3 separate regions of the Homo sapiens genome follow, and regions 2 and 3 are each linked to region 1. Evidence: fine-mapped expression QTL. A gene starts in region 1. Each other region holds a variant in brackets. All regions are shown on one strand. Distances are between the middles of the regions. Region 1 holds the start of RRAGD (Ras related GTP binding D). Region 2 overlaps RRAGD (Ras related GTP binding D). Region 3 overlaps ANKRD6 (ankyrin repeat domain 6).

What was found. PIP is the estimated chance that this variant, and not a neighbour inherited with it, causes the effect.
Region 2: its variant is the best candidate, but not a certain one, in a credible set for the expression of RRAGD in monocytes (CEDAR, PIP 0.76).
Region 3: its variant is the best candidate, but not a certain one, in a credible set for the expression of RRAGD in whole blood (TOPMed, PIP 0.76).

The regions. Positions count from the first base shown.
Region 1 is chr6:89,409,694-89,417,095 of GRCh38, forward strand. It overlaps RRAGD (Ras related GTP binding D), which reads right to left and starts at 2,580. Exons shown (of 7, transcript NM_021244.5): 1 at 2,153-2,580. The coding sequence starts at 2,300. RefSeq lists silencers at 1,537-1,636, 1,667-1,776, 1,807-2,996.
Region 2 is chr6:89,380,176-89,385,175 of GRCh38, forward strand. It overlaps RRAGD (Ras related GTP binding D), which reads right to left. Exons shown (of 7, transcript NM_021244.5): 3 at 1-192. Among named protein-coding and RNA genes, the nearest start is that of RRAGD, 30 kb to the right of the region's middle. The variant T/C (reference allele first, on the strand shown) is at 2,908.
Region 3 is chr6:89,512,439-89,519,840 of GRCh38, forward strand. All of the region lies in intron 1 of ANKRD6 (ankyrin repeat domain 6), which reads left to right. Among named protein-coding and RNA genes, the nearest start is that of ANKRD6, 83 kb to the left of the region's middle. The variant T/G (reference allele first, on the strand shown) is at 3,618.

The DNA of each region.
Region 1 (7,402 bases):
GACTGAGGAGCCTATCTGACACTAGAGAGCAAATGTCCTGACAAGGGATTCTGCATCAAGGCCTAAACCCAAAAGTCAAAGCCAGGGAAATCTGGAAAGAACAGAGGCCAAAATATAACGGAGGAAGTCTGAGAAGCAGACCACCTATCCACTGCAGGCCCAGGTGGACAGAGACCAGGCTTAAGCAACGTTTGCCGAGCAAACATGTTGCTCTTCTCACAATATAAATATATTTAATCCTTTTATAGCAAGATCCCAAGCTGATCCCAAAAGCCCATTCAGAAGGATTTTATTATGCGAGTCACCAAAAATCAGTTACAGGCAAGTTTGCCTTTACGTTAACAGCTAAGGAGCCTCCAAGTCTGGGCTCTGGGGAAGCCCTTTGTTCCGGGAATCCCATCCCTCAAGCAGGGCTTTAATTTCACTTCAATTTCAAGTCCCCAAATCAAATTTTAAAAGTGCCCACTTAAAGAACTGCAGAATAAACGAGGGGTCCAGTACTTTTTCTGGACCCTCCAGGCCTCAGGACAGTATCAAATTACAGGGCTTTCCCTCCTGGATATGGCCCCTCCGCCCCCCCACTTTTTTTCTTTTTTAAAAAAGAGAATCCCACACACACCCTACTGTGTCCACCATTTCAAATACCTTGCAAATACATCCCTATTCTGCATCTCTCCGGAGTCTTCTAAGAATCTGGGAGGAGCTAACAAATGGAATTTGAATAATAATGAGGCGACTGAACAATTTAATTACGGAAGGTAGCTCTAGAGACTCCAATAAAACGGCTGAAAGCCTTTATCTACAAAAATGTGGCCTGGTGCTCAACGGTAAGACCAATTACCGGGAGTGCAGAAGACAGAAAGCACAAAGGTGCACACATCAGTTTAAGCAAATGAGGAATTAGCACAAATCATCCCAAGAGAGAAAACGCTATGAAAAAGGGTGACTTGAGAGGCTGCTTTCTCATCTACCAGGCGCAAGGCATAGTTAACTTTATTTCCTTTCTGATTCATTGAAAGTCGTGCCTGCCAGATGTAGAATAATGAAACTACCCTAGTGAGAAAAGCTTTGCATAGAGAATTTAAAATAAGTTCAGTGAATTCTCAATAAAAGTTCTTTAAAAATCAATAGTCACAAAGGTACTTGTATCTCTCACACAATTTCTTCAGTGTGAAACATTAAAGTTAGTTCCTTCTCTTGGATGCATACAGTTTCACTGAGAATAACATCATGTTTAACAGCCGCTTTCTATTGACCTTTCCAAGTGACCTTACAGTAAAGGAACTTTTGCTCGCTTCTGAGGGAAACTAAAAAAAGTTTAACCTCTCTGGAATACTAAAAGGCTCTCAACTTCCTTACACCTTAAGAAAATGCAGGAAGCCCCCACAAGCTGAACGATTGCTAAAACCCGCTTCTAGAACAGGAAAAAGAGTTTGCTTCACTATTGAAGCAAAGAATTCCCCGCCGCGCGCTCACTCCCGGGCAGGCACTGCCATGTCCAGGTGGTGATACCGAGAGCAGATAAGGTGTCCTGACAACGGTGTTTGCGTGGATCCCGGGAAATCTGCGGCCTCTCGGAGACTCCCACAACAGCTTGGCGAGCATCCCCCCGCCGCCCCGCGGGTCTCCCCAGCCACTACCTGGGTGGGCCCCTCCCGCGGCGACGCGGGGCGAGACTGACACCCGCAGCTGCCGACGACCCTGCCAGTCACGCCGCCGCCGGCTGCCTTTTTTTAGCCACGACATCTGACCCTGGCTTCAACAGCACCGTTCTGGGAGAGAGGTCCCAGGGCGCGCCCGCGGTCCCCTCCCCTCCCCAACCGCCAGACGCTGCGGAGAGCTTGGGGTGAGGGGCGCGGGAGGCACCGGCTCTGAAAGGGGCAGAAGCGCGCGCTCCTCCAGCCCAGACGCTTACTCCCTCCTTCCCCTTTTCCACCGATCCTGGTTGCCCCTCCGCCACCAGCACCGCGCTCCCTCATTTGGCAGCTCGAGGTCGGGCTTTTGGCGTCCCTCCCCACCCCAAACCCTCAACTGGACCCGCTCCCCTGGACCCCCTCCAAGTCGGTGGCTCGCGCACGGCCGGGCTGGGGGCGGGAAGGCGCCAAGGGGAGGAAAGGGGCGCGAGCCGAGGACGCGGGGGCCGGGCGCTCACCTCCCTCCTCTGTGCCGCTGTCCGGATCGGCGTCGGAGGAGTCGGGCCCGTCTCCGTAGTCCGCTAGCCCCACCAGCTCATCCTCCTCCTCCTCCTCCTCCGCGTCGTCCTCGTCCTGCGGCTGCGGCTTCCCCAGCACCTGGCTCATCGTGCCCACCGGCCGGCCGGCCCGGGGACGGCGGGGGTCCCGGGGTGGGGGCCAAGCCTCCTAGCCGGCCGCCCGCAGCCTATTTCTGAAGCGGAGGTTTGTCTAGAGCTCAGCGGGGCCCGGCGGAAGCGGGGGCCGCGCGTCCCCCGGCGGGCGGCGCCCAGGTCCGGGTCCCGCGGTTCCCAGCGCGCCCGAAGCCCCCTCCCCCGCCCCGCCCGCCGGCGGAGGAGTCAGCCGGAGCGCGGCAGTTCCTCCCGGAGGAGGGAGAGAGAGAGAGACTGCGTGACCCGAGTCACCTGACACACACTGTCACATACTCACATACACACCCCGCACGGGCGCGCGCGCGCTCGCCCGGCCGCGGGCACCACTCGGCGGGGCGCTGGGCCGAGGACACACATGCACACGCACACGCACACGCACGAGGAGACCGGGGAGGCGCGGGGCCCCTGCACCCTCCCAGACTCACACCGACACACGCCCCGTACACGGGGCCCCCGGGACGCCGGCCGTCACCCACCGCGGCTGCGCGCCAGGGGCCCCCACGCGCCTCTCCTTCACGTGGTCCCCGCACAGGCAGGGGAGGGGGCGCCGCACACCCTCAATGTCCCCCCCGCCGTCCCACTCCCACACGCCCGCAGAGCGTCTACCGTGGGCGGATGCCTCCTGCTTACAGTCCTGAGCTAGGGTCCCAAGCGGGTGGCCTCCCAACACTGTGGCGCCCAGATCCCCCACCCCAGAGCAGCGTGCCCAGGACACCCTGTGGACGCTCAAGAGCCCCAGGCGGAGAACTCAGATAAATGCACAGTGGAGGCGCAGTCTCCATAGCAATTGTCTTTTAGTGTGCCTTTATGGTTCAAAGTGCTTCCCACCAAGAATATTTAAAAAGCAGGCCTACCCAGACGTAAATGTTTCTGAAGAAATCACATGACTCGTGGCTGCTTAGACTAAATAATTCCTCTGCAGCCCTTTGGAAAAGGTCTCAGTGTATAACACACTCGGGGGCTATTCATGGCCACCTCCTCATGTCTCATTGTTGCATAGACTGTAATCCCACATGAATAAAATATTTCAAGGCTTTTGTGGGAGTAGGGGAGTGGCGGTGGTGGGGGGGCAATTCTCAAATAGGAATAGCAGCAACGTGGAGTGAGACTCTAAAACCTGCATTCCTCCTTCACAAGCTTTTCACCACGGAACACACTGTACCCACCCTTTCTGGGTACTGCAAAAAATTACGTGGATGAACTTCCTTCTGTGGAGCACAATAAGAAAAAACCGGCCGGTCAGCATGATGATCCAGCTCCTACAGGTGCCAGCAGCTCAGCCGGTGGTGCGGTGCAGAAGCGGAGGGAGGAAGCTAGGGCAGGAGACTCTCAGGGCCCAAGGGTGCTAACCTCCATAGGAAACATTTATTAACCACCTCCTATATGCCTGAGGCTGGGCTAAGTAGAGGGTCCAAGAATGCTCAGGGCAGTGTTCCTGCCCTGAAGGAGCTCACAGTCTACCAAATCATGACTCATGTCCTGGATTTTTTTTAGTATTTCTGAGTGCAGAAGGTGGATGCAGACACTTTCCAGAAGGTGGCTGCTTCTAATGGGAAAGGTCCTGAGATTTTCCAAGGGAGGCAGGCAGTATAATTTGGTATGACTGTATCAGTTAAGGTTCTTCCCAGGATGAAACAGACGGTATGTGCAAAGACTTTAACTGAAGCCTTCAAGTGAAGGAACAATTTACAGGGGTGTGGACAGAGTTTAGGGAATCAATGCAGGTATTAGCGATAGTGGGAAGATAACACCACCCCTAAATTTACAGGAGTGAGGAAGGGAGCTAGAGTCCTGGAGAGGGGCCACAAAACAGGAGCTGTAACTGATGAGGAAGCTGCTGCTGCCAGAACGGCCTCACATCAAGGAGAGAGCAAAGACCTCTCTTTCTCTCCATCCATCCTCCCTCCACTCTCCTGTGTCTCCCATTGGCCAAACCCATCTGGTAGCCAGAAGGCAAGGGAGCCTGGAACCTAGTCCAGGACAGAGATTGGATAGGGAGGGCAGGGAGTGGGTCCCTGGGTGGGGTGAGGTGCAAGGAGCATCACCAACACAAGCAGGCACTACATACTCCCATCAGAGGCAAGTTACTTATGCCCTTCTAAACCCGATTGCTTATCAATAGAACATCACTCCTTCTAAGGATTATTAGGAAGATTAAATGAGGCGGAAAAAAAATCTCAGGTACTTACAAAGCTCATTTCCTAGGAGTAATTTTCCTAGCCTATTTTCATCCCTTCCGTCAAAGGAAACCCCAGGGAGGAGGGCCTCCCAGAGTGTGGCTGAGGACTTTCAGCTATTCTATAGCTAGCCCACCATCCTCAAGTGGCCTTTGAACTGGTCTGATTCAAACTGCAAATAACAATTTAGGAGATCTAGAAGACTGTCCAAGGTCAACCCAGACTCAGACGTATAGGGCATTCCTGGGCAGGTTGCCAAGTGTGTAAGACCCATGGACTCAAGGGATCAGGAAAGGGCAGGTCATAATCCAACAGCCCCACTGTGCCTATGGACTAGAAAGGACAGAAATGTCTGATGATCCTCTAACTTCCCCAGGAAGAGAGATCTTAGAAGGAAACAATAGATTGGGGCACACTCCAAGATACTTGAGAATTGGACCATTCTTTTGTTTTTTTCTTTTAACATGGAGTCTCACTCTATCACCCAGGATGGAGTGTAGTGACATGATCTCAGCTCACTGCAACCCCTACCCCCCAGGTTCAAGCGATTCTCTTGCCTCAGCCCCTGAGTAGCTGGGACTACAGGCATGCACCACCACACCCAGCTAATTTTTGTATTTTTAGTAGAGACAGCGTTTCACCATGTTGGCCAGGCTGGTCTCGAACTCCTGACCTCAGGTGATCCACCCACTTCGGCCTCCCAAAGTGCTGGGATTACAGGCATGAGCCACCGCACCCAACCTGGACCATTCTTAAGAATAAGAATAAAATAAAATCCCACAAAAAAATCAGTAGAAGTCAAATCCTCAATTATATTCTACCCCAAGCTAAAGAGTCATATACAGATTTAAGATATTCTAATTTACTACCATTTCAGAAATGTATAGTTGAACAGAACAGGAAAAGCCTTGATTGCTTTTTTTCTTTTGCTGACATCATTTGAATACTGTCAGCTTTCAAAGAAGAGATATGTTGAAAATATCCTAGAAATAGAAGTTCTTGAATTTAAAAAATCATGTGTGTAGAATCTTTCTGAATTTAAATAAAAACTGAAAAACACTACAAGAACCCTGAAAGCCTTTAAGAAACTCAGCGTGGGATCTGCTCAGTGAATTGGCTGCTGCCTTGGCCGCTCTGCACTGGAGCTCAGCCTATGTCTGGGGATGTCTCCCCAGGAGAGTGCTCTGAAGAATGTGAAGATTGGTCTCTGGGCTACCCATGGTTTCTGCTGTGGTATGTAACCATGGCAAGTATGTAACCATGGCTTATACTTGACAGGTGCTTAATAAATGCTTATGGAAAAAAAGAGAGATGGGAGAAAGAAAAGAAGGAGAGAAGGAAGGGAGGGAGGAAGAGAAGAAGAAAAGAAGGGTGGGAAGAACGGAGGAAGATAGTATATGGCTCTTCACACAGATCTAGCCTATTTCTGAGAGAAACTTCAGGAAGAAATAGCAGCCAAGTTTTCTACTTGCTCCAAACCTTGGGAAATGCCACAGTGTGGGTAAATATGAAGTGTTAGCTACAAGAGAGCAACTAGGAATGAGCTGACATGCAAAAAGAGCATAAGTCTTAGGCCTTCATCTGTCCAAGACTGCCTGAGATCTGAAGAGACTACAATATCACGACGACTAAATGCTTATTTTATTTCAACTAACTTTTCCTTCTTAAAAAAAAAAAACTCTTAATTTTTAGACATTTTTAGCATCATGAAAGAAGAGCTTTGTCTATTACCCATTAAAATTTAGCCAACTAACATTTACTGAGATTTTCTACAAATAAGGAGGCACTGTTCCAAGATAATATGAACTTTAAAATATTCCCTCTAAGAAAGTGATATCATCCCCTCTACTTTATAGATAAGAAAACTCAATTTAAACAAGTCACCCAAGGTACTGCACAGAATGGATGGAGGAACTACTTTGGAACTCAGACAGCCTGACATGAAACCTTAATCCAAACTTATACACCCCATGGCCCAGGATGGCTTTGAATGCAGCCCAACACAAATCTATAAATTTTCTTAAAACATTATGAGACGTTTTTGCAATTTTTTTTTTTAGCTCATCAGCTATCATTAGTGTTAGTATATTTTATATATGGCTCAAGACAATTAATTCTTCTTCCAGTGTGGCCCAGGGAAGTCAAAAGATTGGACACCCCTGCCTTAGTCCCATTTAATGGCCTAAGGCTAAACTCTACATTAAAGCCATTGAACTGAAAACGGTAGAAGGGAAGTGATTAGCTGCTCCCAATCTCCTAAGTAAAGAAGCAAAGCTCATATAGACACTCAAAAAATGGATCTGTTGTCTCAGCCGGATTTAATTTGCAGGATTCACTAAGAGAAAAGGGAAAACAAAAAACAAAACAAACAAACAAACAAAAAACTGAAAAGCTTCCTAACCAACAAAAGAAAGAAAACTTCTTGTTATAATACAACTGTGGATTGTCATTCCTTTTACTAGGAAGACAAATGGCAAGTAATTTAGTACCCTTTCTGGTTTATATTATTTCTATACTGTATGCTAAGCCTAAGTATAAAATCCAAGTGTACTTTGGCTTGAAAATTTGAATTTTAAAGGGAAGAAGTTTGTTTCCTGATTTCAGTGAATTATTTTGCTGTTACCAATTAGATGTCTTGTGATGACAAGGAATATGAGAGCTATTTAAAAGAAACCTGTACAATGTAGGCAGAGTAATTGCAGTCCTGAATAGGGCAAGCAATTAAATACAGCCTGCATCCTGCATCTTAGGGTATTTTGAGGCATCTCATGGCATTGTGCCTGGTTCCTGGGATTCACATGTTGAAAGCTTTTCACGCTTTCTTTTAAAATATGTATTTAAAGCTATTCATCCTCTCTTGAAGCAAGCAAAGGAAAGAGCC
Region 2 (5,000 bases), 31 kb before region 1:
AATTTTTTCTAATCCAGCATCTGCAAGGTCATCGTTTGCCCTCTGGTGAATATCTCTTTGGGTTTCAATTTTGTGGTCATCTGACAGACCATCCACTTTATGAATAAACACCTCGAAGTTGATGTCAGTATTCACTTTGTAGGCCCTGGTCACCGTGAGGTGGAGCCTGGCCAGGGCTTCCATGTAATCATCCTAGGACCAAAGGCAACGCCTGTGAGAGAAGGCCGCTTTGCTTCCTGAGCCTCCCACACACACTCTTCACCTGGAAACCATGTGGCTGCAACCCCCCGAAATACGTTGCAAAGGTTCCCCTCAACAAGCTGGCTTCTTATAATTCCAGTGTGAAAATTTAAGTTCTGTTAACAAAGAGAGGAAGAAGAAAGGCTAAAAAAATGCAGCTGATTTAGGCAGTTATGACTGAGGTTGATGACAGTCATAAAGATCAGAGTTGGCTGGGCGTGGTGGCTCAAGCCTGTAATCCCAGAACTTTGGGAGGCCCAGGCAGGTGGATCATGAGGTCAGGAGATTGAGACCATCCTGGCTAACACGGTGAAACCCCTTCTCTACTAAAAATACAAAAAATTAGCCAGGCGTGGTGGCATGCGCCTGTAGTCCCAGCTACTCGGGAGGCTGAGGCAGGAGAATTGCTTGAACCCAGGAGGCAGAGATTGCAGTGAGCTGAGATCACACCACTGTACTCCAGCCTGGATGACAGAGTAAGACTCGGTCACAAAAAGAAAAAAAAAAAAAAAGATCAGAGTTGCGGTTTCAGGAAGAGAAACGGACCCTACTCCACATAAGACCTTCCCCAGAATACTGTTCCTCCTAACTTTTCCAGTCTCTTGTGAACTGTGATGAACAATTAGAGATGGAGGCATGATACAGGCCACTGGGCGGGTGGGGAAGGAGCTGAGGAGCAATTTTAAGAACCACTGGTTCAGTGCAGAAGTCAGCAGACCACCGTCTGCAGGCCCTGTGCCTGTTTCTTAAAAGTAAGTTGTATTGGAACATGCTCATTTGCTTTCATATTGTCTAAGGCTGCTTTTGTGCTACAATGGCAGAGTTGAGTAAGTTTCCTCTAGAGAAACTCCTCAGAGACAGTACAGTCTACAAAGCTTAAGATGTTTGCCATCTGCCCCTTTACAGAAAAAGTCCCCTGGTCTAGAGGAATTGCCCCAAACAATACTAACTTTTTTCTTCTTCCCATGCCTATATAATGAACACCTGTGTATTTATCTCTATTTAGGAAATAAAACACCTACACAAAAGCCCTCTGTGTTTCTCCTCATCCTCCCAACCCATGCTATCCCTCTACCCCCTCATCCTCTAGAGACAACCACTATCCCAAGTTTAGTATTTATTCTCACTCATGTATACATTAATACAGACATATATATCCCCAAACATCACATATAATTCATTTACATTGTTTAAAAATGGAAAGAAATATTAAGTTGTGTGTATATTATAGTTTGCCTTTTTCATTCAACACTATGTCAGTGAGATTCACCTATGCTGAATGTTATCTGTAGTACATAACTACAGTGCATTAGTTCCTTTTAATGGCTCTATAAAACTTCCTTTTATGGATGATCTATAATTTATATTTGCCTGCTGATGGACATTATTCCCATGTATATGTGATTACAATGATATATGTACAGTCTCATGTACATGTGGCTTACTCTGAAGGGTGACTTGTCAGGTCATAGGTAGGAGTGCCTTGACTGTACCTGGAAGTCTGTAAACAGCATCTGATGCTTCAGACCCTCACCAACAATTGGTGGTGTCAGATCTCTTATTGCCAATTTGAAGGGTGTGAACAGGTCTTGTTTTTATGGCAAAAAAAAAAAAAGGAAAGAGACCTGTAGGACAGAATCTAAATGCCTTCCCCCTCTGCCCCGCCACTTGTGCCTCCAAACCTGGAAAAAACAGAAAGCCAATATAATTGGGGGTGTTTTCTGGCATTCTTCTATGCTCCAAACATCAGTAAAAATGTATCCCTAGTCTCTAGGCAAATCAAATATTAATTATACAAATAGGAAACTATGAAGAGGGAAAAACCGCAAATGGAGTCCTTCCCATCCTTCACACTCTACAGAGTTGTTTAGAATAAAGGACAAAAGCCAGGAGCAGTGGCTTGTGCCTGTAATCCCACCTACTGGAGAGGACTGCTTGAGTTCAAGACCGGCCTGAACAACACAGTGAGACCCCTATCTCTAGAAATATATATATATATATATATATGTAATTAACCAGACTTGGTGGTGCACACCTGTAGTCCCAGCTACTCGGAGGCTGAGGCAGGAGAATTCCTTGAACTCAGGAATTTGAGGTTACAATGAGCTATGATCTTGCCACTGCACTCCAACCTAGGTAACAGAGTGAGAGCCTGCCTGTAAAAATTAAATAAAATGAGGCCGGGCGCGGTGGCTCACGCCTGTAATCCCAGCCCTTTGGGAGGCCAAGGCGGGCAGATCACGAGGTCAGGAGTTCGAGACCAGCCTGACCAACATGGTGAAACCCCGTCTCTACTAAAAAAATACAAAAATTAGCTGGGCAGGGTGGCGCATGCCTGTAATCCCAGCTACTCAGGAGGCTGAGGCAGGAGAATTGCTTAAACCTGGGAGGCGGAGGTTGCAGTGAGCCAAGATCGTGCCACTGCACTCCAGCCTGGGCAACAGAGCAAGACTCCATCTCAAAAAAAATAAAAAAAAAAATTAAATTAAATGAAAGGCAAATGTCGGATTCTGGGTCAGCAGATTAAGCATTAAAAACTAAAGGTATTACTGTATGGTTCCACATAGATGAAATTCTAGAAAAGGCAAACTAAAGTGACAGCACTGCAGTGGTTGCCTGGGGCTGAGTGTTTCAGGGGATCACCTGAGAAAGGGCACAAGGGAACCT[T/C]TGGGGTGGTGGAAATATTCTATATCTTGAAGGAGGGGTGGTTACATGGTGTACACATTGGTCAAACCTGTTGAACTGTACACTTAAAATGAATGCATTTTATTGCATGTAAATTACACCTCAAGAAAAGTGTTATTGCTGTCTTTAACTGAGGAGGGGAGTTAAGGGAACATGTCTGTGAGCAAAACTACCCAATGTCAAGAGAGCATCACATCTCCAAAGATTGGAAATTGCTACTCTAACCTCCCTGCCAAGCATATAAAATGGTCTGATTACCAACTAACTGAAAAAGCAGCATGCAGCTACAAGGACTAAAAAAAAGAAAATACTTGGTTGGTTAGAACAGAGGGATTGCAGGTGATTTTTCCCATCGTTTATTACTTTCTTTGACAAATAAAAATTAAGGTAAAATACACTGCATAGTTTCTACTCTGAAATTAGATCTGGGGATTATGGGCAGGTCACAAGCACCAGCACAGGTCAAGAAGAAACTCTCTTTTGGATCCATAGCACATGTGCAATGGCTTCAGGAGATATGGTGCATTCTGTAGGCTGGGGAGCGGGGCTGGGGTGTCACCACAGATCATGGGAACCACTCTTGCTTTCATTCTTTTTTATTTTATGACATTCTGTGAGGACACATTTACTCCTGGGGGATATATTTATCCGGCAATCCTGTGACTGTAAGGAATTCATGAACAAAAAATAAAAATATGAGGAGTGAGAACAAAATAGTATTGCTTAGAAATAAAGGAAAGGGGCCAGGCGTAGTGGCTCATGACTGTAATCTCAGCACTTTGGGAGGCCGAGGCGGGTGGATCACGAGGTCAAGAGATCGAGACCATCCTGGCCAACATTGTGAAATCCTGTCTCTACTAAAAATATAAAACTTAGCTGGGTGTGGTGGCTACTCAGGAGGCTGAGGGAGGAGAATCACTTGAACCCAGTTGGCGGGGATTGCAGTGAGCCAAGATCGCACCACTGCACTCCAGCCTGGTGACAGAGTGAGACTCCATCTAAAAAAAAAAAAAAAGAAAGAAAGGAAAGGACACTCAAGTGCTGTGGAGACACTTCCCTAAAGTTTTGATTTTCCTGTCAGTGCTTCTAATCACATCCCATAAAGGTTCCTGCAAACATGATTTTTACATTCTGCTTCCAACAGAAAAGTATATTAGGTTTTGAAACTGCTTATTTAATTATTCCTTATTTTAAATAAATTACAGCATTCAACAATGCTTTTCCTACTGTTTATTTTTATGTGTGGTTTTTTTCTCTTTTCGAGATAAGGTCTTGCTCTGTCACCCAGGTTAGAGTGCAATGGCACAATCATAGCTTACTGCAGCCTCAAACTCCTGGGCCTAAGTGGTCCTCCAGCCTTGGCCTCCCAAAGTGTTTGGATTATAGACATGAGCCACTGTGCCCAGCCTTCTCTTTTTAAAAAGTATAACTTTAGGCCAGGCGTGGTGGCTCACGCCTGTAATCCCAGCACTTTGGGAGGCTGAGATGGATGGATCATGAGGTCAAGAGATCGAGACCATCCTGGCTAACATGGTGAAACCCCATCTCTACTAAAAATCAAAAAATTAGCCGGGTGTGGTGGCGGGCGCCTGCAGTCCCAGCTACTCGGGAGGCTGAGGCAGGAAAATGGCGTGAACCCAGGAGGTGGACTTGCAGTGAGCCAAGATGGCGCCACTGGACTCCAGCTTAGGCGACAGAGCAAGACTCCGTCTCAAAAAAAAAAAAAAAAAAAGTATACCTTTAAAAAATGAACTTCTCAAACATTCCTATATCTTTCTCTGCCCCACAAAAAACACCCAAGAGAAGAGCCAAGGATAGTAGCATGCATCTGTAGTCCCAGCTACCTGGGAGGTTGAAACAGTAGGATCACTTGAGCCCAGGACTTTGAGGCTGTAGCGGGTTATAATCACACTTGTGAATAGCCACTGCACTCCAGCCTGGGCAACATAGTGAGACCTCGTCTGAGGAAGAAAAAAAACTTCAAGAAACAAAATTAAAATAAAAAACACATTTACCAACCTAAATTGAAGGTCTGCCTTCAATTTAAAAATAGGCAGATGTACCTATTTTCGCCA
Region 3 (7,402 bases), 100 kb after region 1:
CCTCTTGGTTTTGGTCTCAGAACAATGAGTGTCTGTTTCTAAGTTAGGGGGCGGAGTGCAGTCATGGGTTTTGGGGATCCCATACTGTCACTGGCAGCCAGCTGTGCAGCCTGGAGTGTGGGGCTGTGGCCAGGGTGGGCACAAGGAGCAGCATCTGTGTTTGTCTGTTGGGGTAAACCTGGACTTTGGCTGGAGGAGATATTTTCAGTGCTTTACCAGTATTAGTGAAGCATGGAATTGGATTCCCTGGAAGTGTCAGAAATGCCAATAAGCTTAGCAAATGGCTGTGCAGCATGTTGCACATAAATATCAATTTTAATCAGATACTGATTGGGATAGATTTCATAGCTAATCTAGAAGAAGTAATAATCTTTGTTGTCTGTCTTAGAAGAGTGAATGGTTTCCACTCAGAAAATTCAGATCTGGAAGCTCATAGTTCATAGCTGTTTTTTTCTTTTCTATTTCTTTTTCCTTTTTTTCTTTCTTTTTCTCTCTTTTTTTTAAGAGATAATGTCTTGCTCTGTTGCCCAGGCTGGAGTGCAGCGGTGGGATCATTGCTCACTGCAGCCTTGAATTCCTGGGCTCAAGGGATCCTCCTGCCTCCGCTTCCTGAGTAGCTGGGACTATAGGCATGTGCAACCATGCCTGGCTAAATTTGAAAAAGTATTTTTAGAGACAGAGACTCACTATGTTGCCCAGGCTGGTCTCAAACTCCTCAGTTTCCTGAGTAGCTGGGATTACAGGCATGAACCACTGTGCATGGCTGTCATGGCTGTTTTTTCTTTTAACTTTCAATTAAAATATATACCAAATGAAAAGTGCACAAACCGTAAAAATACAGATTGATGAATTTTCACAAAGGGAATGCCATCACGTAACTACCACCCAAATCAGGAAATTGAATACTGCCAAATTTCCAGTATCCCCCCTCCCAATCCTTAACCTGCTTTCCCCTCCAAATCACTCTCTTGACTTATAATGCAATCGATGACTTTTGCCTGTTCTGAATTCTATATAAGGAGAATCATATGGCATATCCTTTTTGTATCTGACCTCTTTTGCTTAGCAGGATATTTGCAAGATTTATCCACATGGTTATAAATAGTAATAGTTTATTGATTTACATTCTTATGTAGTATGAACATATATCACAGTTTATCCCTTCTGCTATTTATGTACATTTTGGTTGTTTTACAGTTTTAAAAAATTATCTGTATTTTAAATTTCATTTTCAACTTTGCTGTTAAATTACCAAACAATAAACTACTTAAGAACATAACCTAAATATTTTGGTTAACTACATTCTGGAACAGAAAGGCATTAATGTTAGTCTTAGGTGGCAGTGAGCTTCACAGAGACACACAAAGAGAGAGCAAAGTGAAGAACAAGGCAATCTCTCCCTATTTATGGCATGGCAAAGCAATTCAGAATGCGTTCACTATTTCTATAGATAAATTTTTTAATGTATAATGTGGGAAAATTTAATGTTCCAATTTATGAAAACAAGAATTATCAGACTGTCACATTCCAATGACTTAAGTAGCTAAACCTTACATCAAGCTTGTCTCACCCGTGGCCAGTGGGCTGCCATATGGCCCAGGATGGCTTTTCATGTGGCCCAACACAAAGTCGTAAGCTTTCTTAAAACATTATGAAGGGCCGGGTGCGGTAGATCATGCCTGTAATCCCTGCACTTTGGGAAGCCGAGGTGGGCAGATCACATGAAGTCGGGAGTTAAAAACTACCCTGGCCAACATGGTGAAACCCATCTGTACTAAAAATACAAAAAATTAGCCGGGCATTGTGGCATGTACCCGTAATCCGAGCTACTTGGGAGGCTGAGGCAGGAGAATCGCTTGAACCTGGGGGGCGGAGGTTGCAGTGAGCTGAGATTGTGCCACTGCACTCCAGTTTGGGTTACAGAGCAAGACTCCATCTCAAAAAAAAAAATTTTTTTGGAGTTTTTGTTTTGTTTTGTTTTGTTTTAAGCTCATCAGCTATTGTTAGTGTTAGTGTATTTTATATGTGGCCCAAGACAATTCTACTTTTTCCAATGTGGCCCAGTGAAGCCAAAAGATTGGACACCCCTGCCGTAAATGGAATTAAAATGTTGGGCATAAGATATCCTCAAAAGACTGTCATAATATATTTTGTGGAAATAGTTCACTTCATTTCTATGATTAGATGGATTACCAATAATTTATAGTTTATTATGAGTAATGCTGCAGTGAACATTCCCCATATGTCCTTTGGTGTACATGTTTGTATTTCTGTTGATTATATACCTAGAATTGGAATTGTTTGGGCATGGGATATATAGATGTTTGGCACTACCAAACAGTTTTCTAAAGCAGTTATACCAGTTTACATCCTCAGGCACAGGTGTTAAAAGAGTTAGCATTGCTCCAGATCTGTGTCAACCATGGTGTTTCCAGTCTTTTAAAATTTTAGTCCTTCTTGTCTGGGCGTAGTAGTTTTACTTCCTATTTCCTTGATGACTTTTGAAGTTGAGCACCTTTCCATATGCTTATTGGCTGTCTGGATAACCTGTTTGGTGAAATTACCTTTTCAAACTCTGGAGCATTTTCCTATTAGATTATCTTTTTCTTATTGATTTTGAAGACATTCTTTATGTCTTCTGGACATCAGACCTTAATTGGATACATGAACTATAAATCTCCTGTCACTGTGGTTTTTCTTTCATTTGAATTGATTCTGAGCTGGGCATCAGTCTTTATGAAGCTAGTGTCTTTCCAGTATGTCCTTATTTCTAGGATGATTAGCCCTTTTCAGGGTGTCCAACTGAAGTCTGGAGTGTTTATTTACTCAGTTTTTCTACCTTTGTGTTCCCTAAACTTCACAGCTGCTTGCAAATCAGCAAATGCCACAAAGGAAAACATGTCCTCAAACATTTGGCTTACCTCTTTGCACCACCCTTTCCTTCATGATCTTGAATACTTAGGTTCTTGCAAGGACTTGGGTCTTTGGTCTTCACACAGATTTTTTTGTTTGTTCAATGTTTTGTTGAGCTTTTCTGGTTGTTACTGGTGGTAGGATTGGTATGGTCGGCAGGTAAAATGTCTGCCCTGCCAAAGACATACTCATTTCCTAACCTTCAGAACCTGTGCATATTACCTTAAATGATAAATGAGTGATATTACCTTATGTGGCCCCCCAAAATGTTATTAAGGATCTTGAGAGAAGGTGCCTCTCCTGGATTATATGGACAGGATCTTGAGAGAAGGTGCTTCTCCTGGATTATCTGGGTAGGATCTTGGGAGAAGGTGCTTCTCCTGGATTATCTGGATAGGATCTTGAGAGAAGGTGCCTCTCCTGGATTACTAGGGTAGGATCTGGAGAGAAGGTGCCTCTCCTGGATTATCTGGGTGGACCCTAAGTGCAATCACATATATCCTTATAAGAAAGACAGAGGGAAATTAGACAGAGACGCACGAAGAGAAGGTGAAGTGAAAACCAAGGCAGAGATTAGAGTGTTGTGGCCTGAACCAAGGACCATCTGCAGCCACAAGAAGCTAAAAGGGACAAGGAACAATTTTCCCCTAGAGCCTCTGAAGGGAGTACAGCACTGCCAACAACTGGACTTCAGACTTTTGGCC[T/G]CCAAAACTGTGAGTGTGATGGTTAATTTTGTGTGTCAGTTTGACTGGGCCATGGGATACCCAGATACCTGGTTAAACATTATTCCTGGGTGTGTCTGTGAGGGTGTTTCTGGAAGAGATGAGCCTGTGACTGGATAGACTGAGTAGAGCAGATGGCCCTCCCCAGTGTGGATGGGGATCATTCAACCCCTCAGGGCCAGTCCTGATGGAACAAAAAGGCAGAAGAAGGTTGACTTCTCCCTGCCTGAGTCCATGAGCTGAGACATCAATCTTCTGCCCTTCAACTAAGACTTACAACCATCAGGGATCCTGGTTCTCAGGCTTTTAGACTGAGACTCAAATTTACACCACTGGTTTTCCTGGGTTTCCAGCTTACAGGGGTCAGATTGTGTGACTTAGCTTCCAAAATTGTGGGAGCCAATTCCATTCTAGATTTTTTTTAAGACACAGCCTCTGTTGCCCAGGCTGGAGTGCAGTGGTGTGATCTCAGCTCACTGCAACCTCCACCTCCTGGGTTCAAGCGATTCTCCTGCTTCAACCTCCTGCAAGTATCTGGGTTTACAGGCACGTGCCACCACTCCCAGCTAATATTTGTATTTTTAGTAGAGACGGGGTTTTGCCGTGTTGGCCAGGCTGGTCTCAAACTCCTGGCCTCAAGTGATCAACCCATCTTGGCCTCCCAAAATGCTGGGATTACAGGTGTGAGCCACTGTGCCTGGCCTCATTCTAGATTTTCAATATCCATATCTATCTGTATATCTCCTATTTGTTCTGTTTCTCTGGAGGACCCCAATAACAGTGAGAATAAATTTGTTTTTGGTTTGTTTTTTGGAGACAGAGCTTTACTGTGTTGCCCAGACTGGAGTGCAGTGGCACAATCATAGCTTACTGCAGCTTTGATATCCCTGGCTCAAGTGATCTTCCCCACTTAGCCTCCTGAGTAGCTGAGACTATAGGTGCATACCACCAAAACGAGATGATTTTTCTGATTTTTAGTATAGATGGGGTCTCACTATGTTGCCCATGCTGGTCTCGAATTCCTGGGCTCAAGTTACCCTCCTGCCTTGACCTCTCAAAGTGCTTGTGTTACAGGCGTAAGCCACCACGCCTGGCCAGATTGCTGTTTTAAGCCACCATGTTTGTGTAATTTGTTACAGCAGCCACAGGAAACCTATACAGTTGGTCTGACATAAATTAATTTATCTGTAACATTTAAAAATTAATAGTAGTTTAATAATTTTATTGCATTGTTTCTAGATTTTAATTGCTATTTCAGAATAAATTGGTGGAATGCAGTTCTTTCTTTATAGAGGGATAGTGTGTAATTTTTAATACATTGTGAAAAGGCACATAATAGAATAAACTTTGGCCTCTTTTATTGGAATAATAGACTCAAGAAACTCATTTGATGTTTTTCTGGTAGGTTGAAAGTTGTGCCCATTATTAGTTTTCCTTGTTGTAGTATAATGTCGAAAGAAGTTGTTGAGATACTTGTTAAAAACATAAGAGTGGGGAAAAAATGTAATGGAACCATTATATATGAAAAAATTTGGACCTATAGTCCACATAGATTGTTTAATCAACATGATCATTATTATAATTTATAGGAAAAACTTGATAGTTATGTTTATTCTGACCACCTGTAACCCGTCAGTGGGGATACTTTTTAAAAGAGAAAACTGTCTTGTCCTTATGACAGTTAATTGCTAAACAGAGTAGATGCACAGAAACCCAGCTCTTGTTTTCCTAAGGGGGGGACTATGATATGTAATGGGATGGGAGTAGCCACTGTCACATCAGCAGGTCATGGGATCTTACCAGTCATAGCCCCTGTGGCAGTTGCTTGACTTTTTTGGATATACACTTCTCTGCAAGCCCTTGAGAGCAAAGTCAATGTCTTTATGTATTCATGGATTCATTCAATAGTTATTACTCCCTTACCTTGTAGCAGGTGCTATGCCAGGTACTGAAGATACTCTAAACAGCAAAAACTGACATGGTTCCTGTTTTCATGGTGTCTAGTGGGAAACAGACAACCAAATAATCATAAAAATAAGTATCTTATGGCCGGGCGTGGTGGCTCACGCCTGTGATCCTAGCACTTTGGGAGGCCGAGGCGGGTGGATCACCTGAGGTCCAGAGTTCGTGACCAGCCTGACCAACATGGAGAAACCCCGCCTCTACTAAAAATACAAAATTAGCTGGGCGTGGTGGCGCATGCCTGTAATCCCAGCTGCTGCGGAGGCTGAGGCAGGAGAATGGCTTGAGCCTGGGAGTTAGAGGTGGCGGTGAGCCGAGATCGCGCCATTGCACTCCACCCTGGGCAACAAGAGTAAGACTCCGTCTCAAAAAAAAAAAAAAATAAGTATCTTATGACAAACACAGGTAAGTGATCTGAATGAAAGGAATGAACACGAGTCCATGGGAACATGGAACAACAGAGCTTGACCTAAGCTGGGGGATTAGGAAAGCTTCCCTGAGGAAGAAATGATGAACTGATGAGTAGGCTTTGACTGGCAGGAGCAGTGGGGAGGGATTAAGTATTTCAGGCAGACAGATCAGCTCACACAGAGTCATATGATGCAAAAAAAAAAGCATAACACTGATGAGGAATTGAACAAAGGCCAAATGGGACCAATGCTCAGAAAGTTAAGAGATGTGTTGAGAGAGGTGGCTCCATGCAGAATCTTTTCAGTCAAGCCAGGGGCACTGATCTTTATCCTAGAGCTATGGAGATCTATATTGGTTTGCTAGGGCTGCCATTACAAAATGCCACAGACTGGATGGCTTAAATGACAAACAGAAATGTGTTGTCTCACACTCCCAGAGGCTAAAATTCCAAGATCAGTGTGTCTGCTGGTTTGGTTTCTTCTGAGGCCTTTCCCCTCAGCTTGCAGATGGCCACCTTCTTCCTGTGTTCTCATGTGGCTTTATCTCTGTGCACTTACATCTCTGATGTCTCTTCTAAGGATACCAGTCCTGCTGGATTAGAGCCTCACCTTTATGACCTCATTTAACCTTAGTTACCTCTTTAAAGACCCTCTCTCCAAGGATAGTCACATTCTAGGTACTGGGGGTTTGGGCTTCAGCGTATGAATTTTGGAGGGAGACACAATTCAGTCTATTAACAGAAGCTATTAAAGATTTTTAAGCAAGGGAGATACTGGCTGTAATTTACAGATTGAGAATATCATCCTGGTCATACTGCAGAGAAAAGATCAGAAGAAGCCAAAGTTGATTCAGGATGGTTAGTTGGGAATCTACTGCAGAAGCCCAGCTAAGACACAATACCAGTTGGATTTTGGCCTGGTAGTATAGATGGATGGGAGAGAGATTTAGGAAGCAAAACCAACACAATGCAGTGGTGGATTGAAGCATTCTATAGAAAGAATGGGAGAAAGGAGATTTCAAGATCGATTCCAAGTTTTTTGACTTGCACAGTTGCAATAACGAACACTGGAGAAGACTAGGTTGGAGACAGATGAGTTTGGTCTTAGATCTGAGTCTTAGAGTTGAGGTGCTGCTTTGAAGACATCCATGTGGAAATAAGTAGGCAGTTGGCTATTTGAATCAGGAGTTTGGAGGAGAGATTTGAAATATGGATATGAATTTGAAAGGCTTGGGCCTACAGATAGTAATAGCAGCTAGTATACCTCTTGGCATATTTTAAATTCTTGATAAATGTCTTTTGAATTAAAACTGTGGTCTACACTGTTTCTTTACATGAACCAGAGCAGAGTTTAAAGATAGTTCATAATCATCTCTTTAGAAATGCTATCTGTTAA